Regions from separate parts of the Homo sapiens genome. Here region 2 is linked to region 1. Evidence: fine-mapped expression QTL. A gene starts in region 1. The other region holds a variant in brackets. All regions are shown on one strand. Distances are from middle to middle.

Region 1 (8,754 bases):
ATGTCCCACTCATCCCTATCCCTCAATGGCATCTGGCCCTGGGCTTACTTTTATTCTCCCCATTTTTCAGCTTCATTGAGGCATAACTTATATACCATAAATGCACCTATTCTAAGTGTAAAGGTTGAGTTTTAATAAATGTATACAATCATGCATCCATCATCATCACACCACATAGTTTTGGAATACTTCCATCTTTCCTAAATATTCCCTGTACTGCTTAGCAGTCATCCCTGCCCCAACCTTCAGACCCAGGCAACTATTTGTGAGTTGTCTATAATTTATGGTTTTGTCTTTTCTAGCAATTTCATATTAAGGAATCATATAGTATATCTGGTGTCTTTCATTGCATACGTTTAAGATTCGTCCATGTTGTAATAAGTATCAATTGTCCTTTTTTATTGCTGTGTAGTATTCCATTGCCTGGGTAAGCCACATTTTGTTAACCCACTTGCTAACATAACAGACAGACATTTGGGTTATTTCTCATTTGATTTTACAAAAAATGCTTCAATGTTCATTTTTCTTACTAGTCTTTGTGTAGATGTATGTTTTCATTTATTTTGGGTAGAAGCCTAGAAGTGAAATTGTGGAGCTATATGGTAAATGTACAATTTTCATTGATTTGAGGCACCTGAACAGGATTAAGAAGTAGGAAGCTGAAAGTAAGCCATATGGGAATGGTACACATGGTTGAGGATATAGCAGAGAATTCCAGGAAAAGGAAGATTACTGAGAAGAAAGATAGAAATGCATTAAGAGAAAAATTCATCTACTTAATAGTTTGTACTTCAATATATGCAGGAAGCCTAAACATTTTATGTAATCACAAAATTGTCTCAATCTATTATAATAGTAGAATTTCACCTGGATCATAGCATACACCATTAGGCATGTGTGGATGGACAAGTACAGTGATAAGGGCATCTATAAAGGTACCTAAGTCTGCCAACAGCCTACATGGTTGTCCACTTTTACAGAGCCATTAAGTTTAATCATGACAAGAATTTGCCTTTAACAAAAAATTCCATTTCAAAGATTCAATTGGAATTTCTACTCTTTGCTTCTACCTCTTGGCTTTCTACTCTACCATGTAGAGTAGAATAGTACAACTGTTCCATGGCACAGTTGTATTTATTTTACCTGGTCTCTGCAGAGGCCATTCTGAACAGTAAGCTCCCCTTGGAATATGAAACTGTACCAATCAGGTTTTAGGACCAGAAGTAATGAAAGAGAACTTTGTGACAACAGAAATAATTATTACATAGCTCCAAACACACCCACATGTCGAATTATATTATCCTATAATTGATCTAACCCAATTAATCTATAACAAAGAAATCCATCCAACTTCCTAGTGCAAAAGTATAAAAGAAGAAAGCTTGATCATTAGAGACTTAAAGATTGAGAGTTCTAGTCATTCAATTTTCAGTTCTTAAATATACAAACAGATTTTGAAATTGAGTAAGAGGCAAAAAGTTTATGCACTTCATCTTTCTCCCATTGGAGAGATCACCCCAAGCACCCTGGATGATTTGGGCATAGATGCCCAAGAGTTCAGTGAATCTGGCTTACCAGGGATTAAGATATATAGGGAGGACAGCCAGCTCCAGGAAGGTTTTTGACATATCTATCACAGCAGAGAGTACCTTTTTCATTAATGAAGACCCACAGAAATATCTGTTGCACCTCAGTATCAGGAAAAAAAAAACCCATGATCCTCTTGGAAGAACTGAATTATTTTTATCCTAAGTGGTTCTCGAGTGTGGTCCCAACCAGCAGCATCCTCATCACCTGGGACCTTGTTCAAAATGCACATACTCAGGTCCCACGCCAGACCTACCAAATCAGAAGCTCTGGAGGTGGGACCCAGCAATCTGTGTTTTGATAAGCCTTCCTGATGATTCTGGGGCAAGCCAAAATTTGAGAACCACTGTCCTGTTTACTGATGGCCGAGAATCTTAGAACCAAATTGGCAGCTTCTCTCTGGCAGCTGTTTTCTAACCCCTCTCCCCACCACCTGAGAGGTAGAGAAGGCTTCTTCAGCACCCTTAGATGCCCAGCTCCTTAGAGACTTAAAAAAACATTTTTACAACACCAACTAAATTGGGCTGTGAACCAGAAAACACAACTTCAGAAAATTGGTAACTTATTCATTCAACTTCTAATACTTTTCTGAGTCAAAAAGCTGCATTAGGATTGTATTACAATTCCTTATCTAAAACCAAGTAGTTGTTTTGAAAATCTTGGATGATAATATTGACCACTTATGTACTAAAAACAAAAAAGGATTTCATCATTTTGTATAGGCCAAGTGCCTAGCTAAAAATGATTAACAAGACATGGTTATCTTTTGCTAGTGAATTATAAGGTTGTAAAAGAGATACAAAAGCAAATGCATTTAAATTATCTATCATGAATCACTGGTTAGCCTGGAAATCTCTTGTTCTTTGGTTAATAGAACACGCAGAAAACCTAAGCCTACAATGCCAAATGAGCAAATATGGCTCATTGTCAGGAACTGAGTGTTTTTCAGCTCTTGTCACTGATTTTTAACCTTTCAGAAGCCAAAGAGAATCTGTGTTTCATCTTAGTTCTGTTGAGAACTTGTGAGACCTTGGGTGAGATACTTTCCCTACTCTGGACCTCATTTCTGCCTCTGCAAAATGAGAGCATTTGATTTGATCATGTCTAGGGTCACTTCCATCTCTGATATTCTGGGATTCTGGAATTCTAGAGATCTAAGACCCCCACTGCTCCAGTACTACTCCAATACAACTACTCTCTCTTGACCGCTCTTGATCAGAAGGAAGAGGGAGAAGAAAAAGTATTCCAGTGGCTGCAGCCTGCTGAAAGCATGAGTGAGATCTGGGAATTCAGATAATCTCAGAAATCACATGCAAGCATTACAGAACTTACAAAACAGTGCCATGTGGAGATCGGCTGTGGTGTGAATTGGAAGACATGGTTTGCTCCTTGGTAAATGATACACAGGAGTCCCAGGGAGATTTTATCATTAGTTTGCTGAGAACAAGATGTGAACCCTTTAAGGAGCCCTTTTCTGTAGAGACAATCTTAAAGAACCAGCCCAGTGTATGAAATTACTAGAGTGTATATATCTGAAAGCTTAGGAACTTGGGTTTATGCAAACACTCCCCCGCACCCCCATTCCCATCAAAGGCAGTTATTTAGCTGAGTGATTCAAGCTGTGGCAATAACTTATAAAGGGTGGGGGATAGGTGTGGTTTGGGGGACTTAAACCACATCTGTCTTCCACCCTTCATGAAATTAAGGAGGTAATTGATTCAATTCATCCACTTCACTTTCTCTGAAGAACTGATTGCCCCTACTAAGTATAAAGAACAACCTTTGTTGTTCCCCCTGTTCATTAGCTAGCCAAATACTTTGCTCTTTTTCACTTCGCTCCCCAGACTACTTTCTAATATGGTTATATTTATGAACACCTCACTACATGGTTTCTAGCTGAGAGATTATGCATTGCATTTGATAATTTCAGAGAATATTTCTTAGCAGCTTCAATTAGTAACTACACTCCAACTGCTAGCTTCCTGCTCCCAAACAGTGCCCCCACCACAAACACATACATATAAAGCACATGGTTATGTTTTCTGTAAAAAGTAGCTTCTCTGGCTGGTACTGAGGTGGTTGCCTTAAATGTGTACTTCTTTCAGTTGATGTAAACATCATCTACATGCCCATCATCCCTGGAGTCACCTATTTCATTTCTTCATCTGCAAATGATGATTTTCATTCTTAAAAGTTCTTTTGTGTCAGGAGCTTGAGCAGTGATGTTCTGTATTGTTTTGTTTTGGAATAAGGCAGGTTAGGTTCCCTTTAACCATTTCTAGAGAGAAAAATCCTAAACAGCCCCTTAAAAGAAAACATGGCATTAAAACAGACAGTCAAACAGTAAAAAGTGGTTTTATTAGGACATTTAGAGACAAAGCAACTGGTGCTGTGCCTGGATTTTTCATCTCTTAAAAGGTTGTTTTGGCTGGGTGTGGTGGCTCATGCCTGTAATCCCAGCACTTTGGGAGGCTGAGGCAGGCGGATTGCCTGAGGTCAGGAGTTCAAGACCAGCCTGGCCAACATGGTGAAACCCTGTCTCTACTAAAAATACAAAAATTAGCCAGGCATGGTGGCGGGCGCCTGTAATCCCAGCTACTCGGGAGACTGAGGCAGGAGAATTGCTTGAACCCAGGAGGTGGAGGTTGCAGTGAGCCAAGATCGAGCCACTGCACTCCAGCCTGGGTGACAGAGTGAGACTCCATCTCAAAAAAAAAAAAAAAATTAAAAAGGTTGTTTTGATAGTGTACAGCACAGCCTGGATAACTGCAAAGTTGGGGTTTACCACGTGACAGAGCTAGGTATTAAGCCCAAGTGACCTGAATGATCACTCCTTGGAGGTGACATAAACCCTGTCGAAGTGTAAATGATCTGTTGCTTCACCATCTCTCTGATATTAAATTTTGAGGAGTGGGTTCAAGGTTGTGCTTCAGGGGACACCTACACTTATTTATCATGTAAAACAAAATGCACTAGACTACCATGTGATTGCAGGGGGATAAATGGTTTTTTTCTTAAAAAAAATTGACAAAACCTATATAGACCATCCTGGGTAGATATGAAAACAGGGTGATTCTAATAATAAATAAGACGATTTAATAGGGTCTAGTTGGTCCCAAGATTCCCCAACAGGGAAGAATAAGCAACTGCAGAGCATTTCCCCAGCCCCCTCCCTCTCCTTATGACAGGACACGCCAATAAAACTCCACCTCCTACTCTTCAGTGCCAGATGGGTAAGCATTTAGCCAAGCATGCTGGGAGACACACAGAACTGAAGCAAAGGAGTATCTGGATGTCTTGGATTTTCTTCCCATTCTGTTCTGTTCTGTTCTCCTAATACCATCTCGTTACTAGACGTAGGCATTGGACGTGACAATCAACTGCATTTGAACTGAGAAGAAGAAATATTAAAGACACAGTCTTCAGAAGAAATGGCTCAAAGGCAGCCTCACTCACCTAATCAGACTTTAATTTCAATCACAAATGACACAGAATCATCAAGCTCTGTGGTTTCTAACGATAACACAAATAAAGGATGGAGCGGGGACAACTCTCCAGGAATAGAAGCATTGTGTGCCATCTATATTACTTATGCTGTGATCATTTCAGTGGGCATCCTTGGAAATGCTATTCTCATCAAAGTCTTTTTCAAGACCAAATCCATGCAAACAGTTCCAAATATTTTCATCACCAGCCTGGCTTTTGGAGATCTTTTACTTCTGCTAACTTGTGTGCCAGTGGATGCAACTCACTACCTTGCAGAAGGATGGCTGTTCGGAAGAATTGGTTGTAAGGTGCTCTCTTTCATCCGGCTCACTTCTGTTGGTGTGTCAGTGTTCACATTAACAATTCTCAGCGCTGACAGGTGAGTTTCTTTTCTCCATTATATTTGCCAGGATGTGAAATTGGGCAAAAAGAAAGGAAAGCTTGTACTTAGCATTTACTGGCTACTATTCTGCTTTTCTCACACTCTGTAACGTGGATGTGAGATTGGAAAATCTGGTGGCATTTAAAATAAAAGTTAGTGTAAGAATGTTAAAATTTCTGTGTTAGCACGGAGGAGAAGTTGAAATTGCATGCTTTATGGATAATTTATTCTTATTGTTTGCTCGGAAGTATACTGAACGGGGTTTTTATTTTTCTCCAGTTTATTAAGTAAAGCAAATTGTTCCAGGTGTAAAGGAAAAAAATTCATGCTTTATACATTAGTGCAGCCTAGTGGTGCAATATAGTCAACATGAAAACCAGGATAGGTGTGAAATTGACCACATATGTATAACTGTATATTGGAAGAGTGGTAAAAAGACACAGGCATCTAATTTATTTGAAATTCATCAAATTAGCTAATGGCAGAAAAACGGTGAGGTTTTCAACTCCCTGGTAACTTAGTGTAATGTCATCACGTAATTCTACTTGTTTTCTCTGTAGGCATTCAGTGACATTATCATTTCCAGAGAAATAAATTAATCTTGGTTGACTTTTAGAGCTCTGTGGAGAGAGCGTGTGAGATCCTCTTGCAGTCAGGGTGTTCAGATTCTGTGTTAGGATATTTTCAGTCCAAGTACTCTGTTTTTCTGTGTTCCTATTGTAGAATAACTGTAAAAACATGAAAAAATTTGAGGCTCCAAATGTTAAAAATGATGCTTTACAAAGCCTGCAAGATTCCTGTAAGTAATCGATGTTTGGCAGTACCAGAAGGAATAACTTCTTCAGATTCTAGAATCTGAGAGGAGGAAAACCTTTCCCTGTGTCTTTTGATGATTTTTGCTTTGACTGGTCTTATATTCTATTTGAGGGCAGACTGGCTTAATGACTGTAGATTTTAAGGTGGATTTGTTTGAATGAGGAGGTATCTCTGTACCGGCACAGGACTTCTGATTGCAACTTTGCCTCGCCCTAAATCTGTCCACTGATCAGGTTGGGCAACGAATTAACACTTACAAACGGGGAAGAAATTAATCCTCTCCTCTTTACCACATAAACCCTTGGAATTCTCTTCTAGGAAGGTTGATAACTGTTCACTCATGAAGAAAGGAAAATTAATTCAGTTTAACATCAGTCACTTATACAAAAGAAGTCTTTTAGGTACCTTAAGTGTATTACACTTAAGGTAATACACAGGTGGTGAATTACTCTCAGTCACACATAAAGTCATGCTGATAAATGTTTATTTGTCCTAAATAGAGAGTCTATACATAAAATTATAAAATTGCAAATCTGGAATATCTCATAGGAGTGAATAATGGAAAAGGAGATTAGCATAAATAAAAATATTGGGATGTATTATGTGCATTTAAAACCATAGCCAATTCTAGTTGGTTAATGTTGACTTGGTTATACACATATGCACGGAGGGTAGAACTGGATGACCACTAAGGTCACTTCTCACCCTAAAATTTGGTAACTTTGACATTTATTTGGACCTTTGCCTCTGATTATGTGTTTCTAGATACAAGGCAGTTGTGAAGCCACTTGAGCGACAGCCCTCCAATGCCATCCTGAAGACTTGTGTAAAAGCTGGCTGCGTCTGGATCGTGTCTATGATATTTGCTCTACCTGAGGCTATATTTTCAAATGTATACACTTTTCGAGATCCCAATAAAAATATGACATTTGAATCATGTACCTCTTATCCTGTCTCTAAGAAGCTCTTGCAAGAAATACATTCTCTGCTGTGCTTCTTAGTGTTCTACATTATTCCACTCTCTATTATCTCTGTCTACTATTCCTTGATTGCTAGGACCCTTTACAAAAGCACCCTGAACATACCTACTGAGGAACAAAGCCATGCCCGTAAGCAGGTATGTATTAATCAGTACTCATGCAAATCTAGTTTGAATTTAGAAGTGAAGTTCCTACTTTTGCACAGTGAGTAACTGTGTATCTTCCTGTTTATAAATGCAATAGCAGTGTAGTATTTTTGTTATGAGCATAGGCTCCGGTTTGAATCCCAGTTCTATCACGTACTAGCTGAGTAATCTTGAGCAAGTTACCTAACCTTTCTGAGCCTCGGTTTCCTCATCTGTAAAATGAAGATGATTACTAGATGATATAGATGAAATGCTTAGGTGCAGAGTAAGTATTTCAATAAATGGTAAGACTACTACTATTAGAGAGGGGACAATTGAAGTTTGAGAGTAGTCAAAATTTTTTACCCCATGGAATAGTGGGGAACACTGCATAAGATGATACTATGAAGAAAAGCATCTTTTGTTTTAGAAAGTGTAACAGAATAAAAATACATAGCATATAGAACTGGCAAGAATCCGTAACACTATTCAATGCAAACCACTTACACACAGATGAGCAAACTGAGGTGGGGAGGAGTGAGGGGAAAGAGTGGAATGCAAGTAGCACGAGAACACAGTGACTCACAGAAGCTTGATTAAGACCACTGCAAGAGCCACGTGTACCCTCCCTCTCATAAATATGGACAGAATAAAAGGAATGTTGCCAAAACATAGTTCCATTTGATTAAAAATATTTTTCTAACCTCTGGGAAAGGGGGAGAGAGGATTCCATTTACCCCTTGATCGGTACGCAGAGAACTGTGCCTTTTTTAGAGCTAGTCCATTCAGTTAGTTTAACAATGGTGCTCATGAGACTGAAGTTGCATATTTAATACCCATGTGAACCAGTTACCTTTGCTCTATTTGTGACCACAGGCTATATATTCACCTAACTTGGCTCATTTCTCTTATTAATAGATGTAGGTAGGATTATCTTCACATAAAAAGGACAGCACATTTTGGATTTACTTCTTTGACTATATGGTTAGAATTCCTATAGAGTAAAAACAATTTTAGTTACCAGCTTGGCAACTTTCATAGACCTCAAAACAATATTCTGACCTAGTCAGCTTCTGCTGATGCAGTGAAAGCAATTTTGTATAGCGTCTCTTTGTTTTTAATTACAGTAAATTTTGGAGAATTCCACGGCATTCTTCGAGTTAACTGCAGACATCCTAGAGTATCTCGAAATTAGGGGGAAAGGTATCTCTGAATTAGAGTTAATGAGCCCAAGATCAGAGGTTACCATGCCAATTGACTTGCTGTGTTATATAGTCACAGGCTGACTTCCTGCACATCCCAGCCAGTTAGCATACAAATGCATGTTCAAAGGGAAATCAGCTGTAATTAACTGTAAATTTCTATGTAAATTTATAGG
Region 2 (8,754 bases), 65 kb before region 1:
TAAATAAATGAATACATAAATAAATAAGGATAACCAGACCCTTCCAGTGAGAAAGATAAACACCTACATTTCAATACCAAAAATCAAGTTCCCCAGGACCCTTGTGAATATATATGATGCAGTGGGCTGTGGAGACAGCAGAATTGGGTTCAAATCCCAGCTCTGTCACTTTCTAGATGTGCGACCTCGTGATGTAATAATGATCATGCATGCATCCTAAAATTGAAGTGAAACTGAAATAAGATGAGGTCTGAAAATGTTCTAGCACAGTGTAACACAGTATATCTTCACTCCTTTCTCTTTCAAACCCCAATCAGCTTACCACTCATCCCCTCATGGCCCCAACCTACCATGTCTACCCCATTAAAGGTATCACATTGATCTTCTAAGCAAAATTTAATGCTGACTACCAAACAGACTACAGCACTGGTGCCAGTCACTGGTATAAAACTCCTAGGTCTCCATTGTTCCCCCTAACACCTCACATAATATAAAAATTAGGTTGGCCCTTAGGCCCCCGAATATCTGCCATCAGAGTCAAATCCATTGTTCCCCATGTGGCTCCATGTGTACTTTTTTGGTAGGGAAAGGTGAGTGAGTGTGTGTGTGTGTGTGTGTGTGTGTCCGTGTGTGTGAAGGGACTAACATGAATAATGATCAAAGTGTCTTGAATGTTACATGTCTTTGAACCGAAATATTAAGTCACTTTCACTCAAAAATAGATTTAAGGACAAGACTTGGTTGCAATTAGCACTTTTACAAATAAATGCATTTTGCAAGTGATTTGATTTGGGGGATCATTTTGGCTGTTAAAATGCCCATGATTGTATTTATTTTCAACAAGTAATAAAACCTTGATTGTTCTGCTGCTGCTGGAGTGATAAATGTACAGCCTATCTCTAATGACCTGACAGACTGTCGAGAACAGAAACGTTATTTGATAGAAAAGTTCATGATTCCTATCATGACACCCCTTGCTAATTAGGAAAACACAGGCTTTCTGCAATTTCAAAGGCAGTTTGAAATTGCAGGGAAAACACTGATTAAATATCTTACTGGCATCCTTTGGCTTGCTTTTCCTGGGCGCACAAAATGACTGATACTTGTGTGAAGGTGGACCCAAGTAATTATGGAAAAAAGACCCTAGAAACTTTGGACTGCTTTCAATCAACAATCAACTCCCAAGTATTCACAGAGTCCTGACATGGAGGGAAAGATATAGACACATCATACTTAGGCCACTACCTCCAGCAGTTTACTGTATACTTGGGGAGACCAGATGCATACACTGGAATAGTGAATGATTAGAGCAAGGATATGATAGAAGAAAGTGCTTTACAGGTAGGAAGTCACAGAGGATTTAGTCAGGCTGAGAGTAGGGTATTCCAGGTGGGGCCAATGGTGGCGGGGGTGGACATTTGAATAAGACAGGACTCTATTTCTCAATACCACAGGCAAATTGTCTTTATTAAGCATTGATCAGCAAATTTACAAAGCCCCCTGGAACCTCAGGGCATGGACTTTTCATTCTCTGCTGCACCCTGGGTACCCTGTGGGCAAGTGGCAAACACTGAATGGTACTAAACTCTCTCTGAGGCATGTCTGAGGAAGCTCCTGCGCAGAATCCTAATCCTTATCATTTTGTCCAAAGTCCCAAAGATGACAGTGACCATCTGTGATGGCCCACTTCCCCTGTACCCAGGAATATGGGAAGGTTGGGGAGGGGGCAGAAAGCTAAGAGGAGGTAAGGCTTGTATCTCTAATAGCTCAAGCCTATGATGTGTTTCTGGTCCTGACCTTCAAGCATTTAGGGTACACAAGGAGCTTGGAGCAACGAAGGAAGGACCTAATTATACCTGTCTTGATTAGGCAAAACCAGTGGAATGGATTAAATTTATACTTATAATGTCTGGTAACTCATAGACACTCCATAAATATTTGTCACATGCCTGAGTGCATAAATGGTCTAAAATACATGAGCATAGGAAAGCAATGGCTGACTTTTCCTAATCTAGGGTTTGTTATCTTAGTGCTGAGTAGACCTACGCTTTCCATTATTATATAAACTCCATTAGGGCAAGAACCTTGTTTGTATTTTTTACCATTGTACTCTCAGTACCTAGCACAATGTTTTACTCTAGGTTCTTTGGTTGCCAGCCACATAAACCAAATGTCTTTGAGCTGACATTATTGTCAGTTCTGACTAACCAAGGGGACTTGTTGAAAGTGTTTTGGGAATTCAAAACATTTATGGGAAAGTTAAAGAAGAGGTCTAGACATTGTGGAAGACAGTGTGAAGATTCCTCAAAGACCTAAAGACAGAGCTACCATTTGACCCAGCAAGCCAAATGGTATATACCCAAAGAAATATAAATCATTCTATTATAAAGACCCATGCATGCATATGTTCATTGCAGCACTCTTCACAAAGAGAGGAATCAACCCAAATGCCCATCAGTGATAGACTGGATAAAGAAAATGTGGTACATAGACACCGTGGAATACTACGCAGCCACAAAAAAGAAGGAGATCATGTCCTCTGCAGGGACATGGGTGAAGCTGGAGGACATTATCCTTAGCAAACTAATGCAGGAACAGAAAACCAAATACTGCATGTTCTCACTTATAAGTGAGAGCTAAATGATGAGAACACATGGACACATAGAGAAGAACAATACACACCGGGGCCTTGCAGAGGGTGGAGGGTGGGGGGAGGGAGAGGATCAGGAAAAACAATTAATGGGTACTAGGCTTAATACCTAGGTGATGAAATAATCTGTACAACAAACCCCCATGACACAAGGTTACCTGTGTAACAAGTCTGCACTTGTACCACTGAACTTAAACGTTTTAAAAAAAGAAAGAAGAAAAAAGAACAGGGCTTGAAAAAGGACAGGAGTCTACAAAGCAGGAACCATAGTGATTGTCTCCTAACAGGGAAGTAGACTCATGCGGGCGCCATTACTGGGAAGAATAAACAGTAATTTCTATGCTCATACTACTAGCTTAAGACTCAAAATCCTGTGAGCCTGTATCTAATCAGCTGAGCTTAAATTTTGTGCTATACTGAGCAGTGAGAGGAAGGATGTGGCAGAAAAAATCTTCAGGAGCACTTTGGTTTTGATAGTGGTAGAAGTATGAATTTACCATCCCACCAAGAATATCCACAATGGGGAAGAAGTCATTCTACAAAAAGAAAGTAGGGTGTTAGGAATGAATGAGTAGGTAGGAAAAAACCCCACATGTTCACCTCACACAATATAGAAGTGGATATACTTTGGTTGAATGATAACTAATTCAGTAGCATCCTTCTTCAGTGAGGGTGGGATAGTGCTAAGAAGAATAGATCTCTCCCCTACCCTGAGGCCTCATTCAGGTGAGAGGTGAAGCCAGCTGGACTTCCTGGGTCGAGTGAGGACTTGGAGAACTTTTCTGTCTAGTTAAAGGTTTGTAAACACACCAATCAGCACTCTGTAAAAACGCACCAATCAGTGCTCTGTGTCTAGCTAAAGGTTTGTAAACACACCAATCAGTACTCTGTAAAAACACACCAATCAGCGCTCTGTGTCTAGCTAAAGGTTTGTAAATGCACCAATCAGCACTCTGTAAAAACGGACCAATCAGTACTCTGTAAAATGGACCAATCAGCACTCTGTAAAATAGACCAATCAGTAGGATGTGGGCGGGGCCAAATAAGGGAATAAAAGCTGTCCACCCGAGCCGGCAGTGGCAATCCACTCGGGTTCCCTTCCACGCTGTGGGAGTTTTGTTCTTTGCTCTTAGCAATGAATCTTACTGCTGCTCAGTTTTTGGGTCCGCACTACCTTTAAGAGCTGTAACACTCACTGCGAACGTCTGCAGCTTCCCTCCTGAAGCCAGTGAGACCACGAAGCCCCCGGGAGGAACAAACAACTCCTGAAGCGCCATCTTTAAGAGCTGTAACACTCAGGGGGAAGGTCTGCGGCTCCACTCTTGAAGTCAGCGAGACCACGAACCCACCAGAAGGATGAAACTCCAGACACAGCTGAACATCTGAATGAACAAACTCCGGACACACCATCTTTAAGAACTGTAACACTCACTGGGAGGGTCGCCGGCTTCATTCTGGAAGTCAG[T/C]GAGACCAAGAACGCAGCAGAAGGAACCAATTCCAGACACATAGGTATTCACTAGTTACGTTTTAAGACTAAAGTGAATCAGGATGTGCTGAGAGAGCTGAAGTGTTAAAGATAAGCGTCCCAGAATGATAGATAAGAGTGCTGTTAGAAAAGGTGATCTTTAGAGATACTGGGTACAGAAGTTGGCCTCACTCTAAGGAAAGCCAATGTATTAAAATGAGCTTTATTGTTTGTCTACGTTGTCACCTTGCCATGTCTCTCCAGACAAGCACCTCTTCAGCCCCAATACTAGGAAATATTCCCCAAACCTCCATTCTGCACCCTAATTACTTAAGCCCAATAAAGACCCGGATCATGCAGGCTGGGAAAGTGTGATTCATTATAAAGTATACCTTTATGTCTTTGCACTTGAAAGGGCATTTTTTTAATTACACTTTTTGAAGGTGCTTCACCATAAAGCTTTTTATGAGTTCCCTTAAATATTTGAAAATATATTTTGATCCCAACTTCCAGGACCTTTCAGCTCTGATTAAGGAGTGCTCTGTTGTCTGAGAAGGAAAGCTAGGAGGAGTGTTACTTCCATTCTCCACCTCACCAGGCTAATGGCATTATGTTCACAAAGTGAGATTCCTAAAAAGGGAGAGGCAGAAGAAATCAATATTAAGTAGTAACTTCAAATACTGAAAAAATTTCATCTCATCTAAATGCGTAAGAAAAGTACAGATGTTTCCTTAATATATGCAGTCCTATGCAAATGATTATGTAAATTAAACAAAAAGTTGGGACTGGCAGATTCCCAAGTTTGCTAAGACTTACTTATGTTAACCTAGAATTCATCATAGAAACAAGGGTAAGGATTGTTGTTTACATCTCCTTCACTTAGATGTGAGGGGAGGCAAGATTGAAGGATATGCTACCTTAATAAAGTGAAGACACTCAAATCCGGGGACATGCTAGATAGATGGTTAGATGAGTAGATAGACAGTTTTCACCTTCAAAATGTTAGCCAACTCATTCATCATGCTCAGTTGGTTGTGGGCAGCAATGGGACTAGAAATGGAAATGAATCTGAGTTGGAGTGAATTTTGATGAAGGCCTAGTTCATGCAAGAAAGATTTTTTTCTTTTTTACATCCTCAGCTCACAAATTCCAAGAGGAATGGAGAATTTTAGAGACAGTTACAGGGGAAGAATAAAGACCTAGTGTAACGGGCTATATCAAATCTTCATGCACTGGCCCTTTCAGAAGGAGAGACATAAAGATATACTTTATCATGGATCGCTCTTTCCTACCCTGCATGATCTGGGTCTTTAGTGGACCTGAGAAATCAGGTTTCTTAGGTTTCTAACTATAGATAGATAGTAACTAACTATAGATAGACAGTTAGGTTTCTAATTACAGATAGATAGATGAATGAGCTGGCTAACATTTTTAAGTTGAAAACTATCTATCTATAGTTAAAAACCTAAGAAACTGGGGCTGGTGACAGTGCAGATAGTGAGGGATAGAAGAGAATTTTTCTCTTCTCTCTGCCTCCTTTAGACCTGAGTCTAGAAATATGAGCAGGTAAAGGTTTCAGAGAGGCTTGGCAGTCTTTGAATCTGGTAGCTCTCTAAGTCCAGCATGCTAGTCATTATGGGCACTTCCTCTGTGCCCATTTCTATGCTAAGCTCCGTAGAGGATACAATGAAGTAAAGGCCACAGTCCTACACACATAAAAATGGGCTGTCCTTCGTGTAATAAAACATCCATACCTACAACAGTTTGTCCACAGTAACATATGTTAATTCTTAAAATTGTGTGGTAGAGACCTTGAAGCATAACAAATAGTAACTACTTAATTACTAGTCCAATTCCACAAATATTTATTGAGAATCCACTATACTTGATGTACTGAACAAGACAGTTCCTAAACTTGTCTGGGGAGACAAGTGTGCAGTAACAATACACTATTTGATACTTTCATATGCTAGGAAGTTTCAATTTATACAACTGGCAGAAGGGCAAACAGGTATAGCCTGTTTGGAAAACTGTTCTGTAGTTTCTAAGAAAGTTAAACACACCCTATGACCCAGCAATTCTCCTGGGCATATACACCCTAGAGAAATGCAAACGTGTCAACCAAATATTTGCACACAAATGTTCATAGCCACATTATTCATAACAGCCAACATGGTGGAAACAACCAAAACGTCCATCAGCAGGTGAATGGATAAACAAATTGTGGGACATTCATCCAATGGAATACTATATAACAGTAAAAAATGAACTATGCACACACACGACAACATGGATAAATATAAAACATGTTGAGTCAAAGAAACCAGACACAAATGAGTCTGGCTTCTTTGACGGTACAATTTCATTTATATGAGCAGACAAAAACAATCGATGATTATAGAAATTGGAATAGTGGTGATCTCTCAGGGAGAAGTCTGTACTGGGAAGGTTTAAAGATAGCCTTCTGGCCAGGCGTGGTGGCTCACGCCTGTAATCCCAGCACTCTGGGAGGCTGAGGTGGGCAGATCACGAGGTCAGGGGTTTGAGACCAGCCTGGCCAACGTAGTGAAGCTCCATCTCCACTAAAAATACAAAAAATTAGCCGGCCATGGTGGTGGGTGCCTGTAATCCCTGCTACTCAGGAGGCTGAGGCAGGAGAATCGCTTGAACCCAGGAGGCGGAGGTTGCAATGAGCCGAGATCACGCCATTGCACACCAGCCCAGGCAACAGTGCGAGACTCCATCTCAAAAAAAAAAAAAAAAACAAAAAAAAACAAAAACAAAACACAAAAAAAGCCGGGGGGAGCCTTCTGGGAGGCCGGAAATGGTGCTTTCATAGCTAAGTACACATATAAAAGTTCATTCAGTTGCACACTTAAAATAATGTACTTTATGCATCTTATTGTAGTATGCTGTCTCTCAGTTGAAAAGTAGAGGGAAAACCCCATTCAAGCTATTGAGCACACTTTAGCAATGTCTATCCAAACTTCAGTGTATATAAACTTAGCTCAGAAATTCCACTTATAGCATTCTATCCTAGCTCAACAATTCAAAAATTTATGGGCAAGGTTATTCAGTGCAACCCTGAAATAGTGAAAACTGGAAATAAGCTAAAGCTTTTCAATATCAGAAGGGTTAAATAAATGTGGGCTATATATAGTATGGAATAATATGCAGCTAAGAAGAAGCTATACCAATTTGATTAATAATACAAATATATCCACAATATATTTTTCTGCCATAAAGAAATTTGCATGACAGTACATGTAGCATGATAAAGTATGTGTAAAAACAAAACTTTGTGTGTGCATGCATGTCCATAGTTATACAGAAAAAAGTAAGGACACACTCCTCATTGTTGATAGTGGTTTACCTCTGGGGAGAAGTATTGATGAGGCTTTCACTTTGTATTTTACATACTTCTGTATATGTTGAATTTTTATAGAGTATCTATAACTTTTGTAGTTTAAAAGTTTAGTAATAATAGGAATATATGCAGTGTGATGAATTTCCCTGAGATGTAACAGTGAAAATGATCAAAGGGTTTTTGTTGACAAAGATGATAAATTCAGTCTTGGACATCTGGTTTTGAGATGCCTGTGGGACATTCAGGTGGAGATGTCTAGAAGGGAGTTGGATATGTAAGTCTGGAGGAGAGAAGAGTGGTTAGGGATGGAAATGGAGATTTTGGCAATATCAATGGTAATTGAAGCCACCTTAGGAGTGAATGCGATTCCCAAGGGGGAGTACACGGAGGAAGAATGGAAGCAAGTAGGCCCAGAAATGAGGAGCACTGAGGGCCAGGCATAGGCGGATCATCCTGCAAGGGACATCCTGAAGGAATGGTTGGAGAGGTAGGAAGGAAACCAGAAATATGAGGTCCCATGTAAGCCAAGGAAACTTTAGTGAGATCCAAGAGGTTGAGCAGTGAGGAAGGAGAAGAGGGCAATGTAGCTCTTTGAATAAACGTAGCCACTAAGTTGCAAAAGTTGGTGGAGGGGTGGAGGTCACTGGAGGAGACTGAGGTTGAGAAAGTTTTTTAAAATGTAGTATTAAGATAAGAGAGAGATGAACACATTTACATGGTTAAGGGAAGTACCTAGCAGAAATATAGAGGTTGAAATATTGAGGGGGGACATAATTTAGCCAGTAGAACAAGGAAGGAAGGGATGGGATCCATGGCACAGATGGAAGGATTCCTCTTAGAAGGTGAGGCACTCCACTGTAACAGGAAGGAAGGTGGCAAGGGTGGGTGTGGACGCAGGCAAATATATAGATTTGGTAATCGGAATTTAAGGGAGCTCTCATCTGATAGCTTCTATTTTCTCTGTGAAGTAGGAGGTGAGGCAACCTGCTGAGAGTGAGAAGAGACTGATAAGATGGAGAAGGTTTAAAATAGCTGCTATAGAGAACAGGAGGAAGAGCTAAGTAGCAAAACAGAAAAATTTGTAGGTCTCCTTAAAGATCCACTTGAGGTGAGAGACTATAGTCTGCATAATTTGGGGGGATTGTGTGGGATCATCCCCTGGGAGAGAGGGCAGAGGTGGAGCATTTACACAGTGTCAAAATCCCTCATCAAATGGGTTAACTGATTCAAATAACTAGTCAATTCAGTGAAGAAAACATAGTGGCACAATTA

Direction of the effects. Positions count from the first base shown, and alleles are read on the strand shown. Sizes are in standard deviations (SD) of each study's normalised expression.
For the expression in testis of the gene that starts at base 4,851 in region 1, T is the low allele of the variant in region 2 and C is the other (small effect, 0.18 SD a copy in GTEx).

Evidence for each region. PIP is the estimated chance that this variant, and not a neighbour inherited with it, causes the effect. A credible set is the group of variants that fine-mapping cannot tell apart.
Region 2: its variant is the best candidate, but not a certain one, in a credible set for the expression of BRS3 in testis (GTEx, PIP 0.79).

The regions. Positions count from the first base shown.
Region 1 is chrX:136,483,097-136,491,850 of GRCh38, forward strand. It overlaps BRS3 (bombesin receptor subtype 3), which reads left to right and starts at 4,851. Exons shown (of 3, transcript NM_001727.2): 1 at 4,851-5,452; 2 at 7,037-7,388. The coding sequence starts at 5,019.
Region 2 is chrX:136,417,748-136,426,501 of GRCh38, forward strand. No RefSeq gene overlaps it. Among named protein-coding and RNA genes, the nearest start is that of BRS3, 66 kb to the right of the region's middle. The variant T/C (reference allele first, on the strand shown) is at 4,116.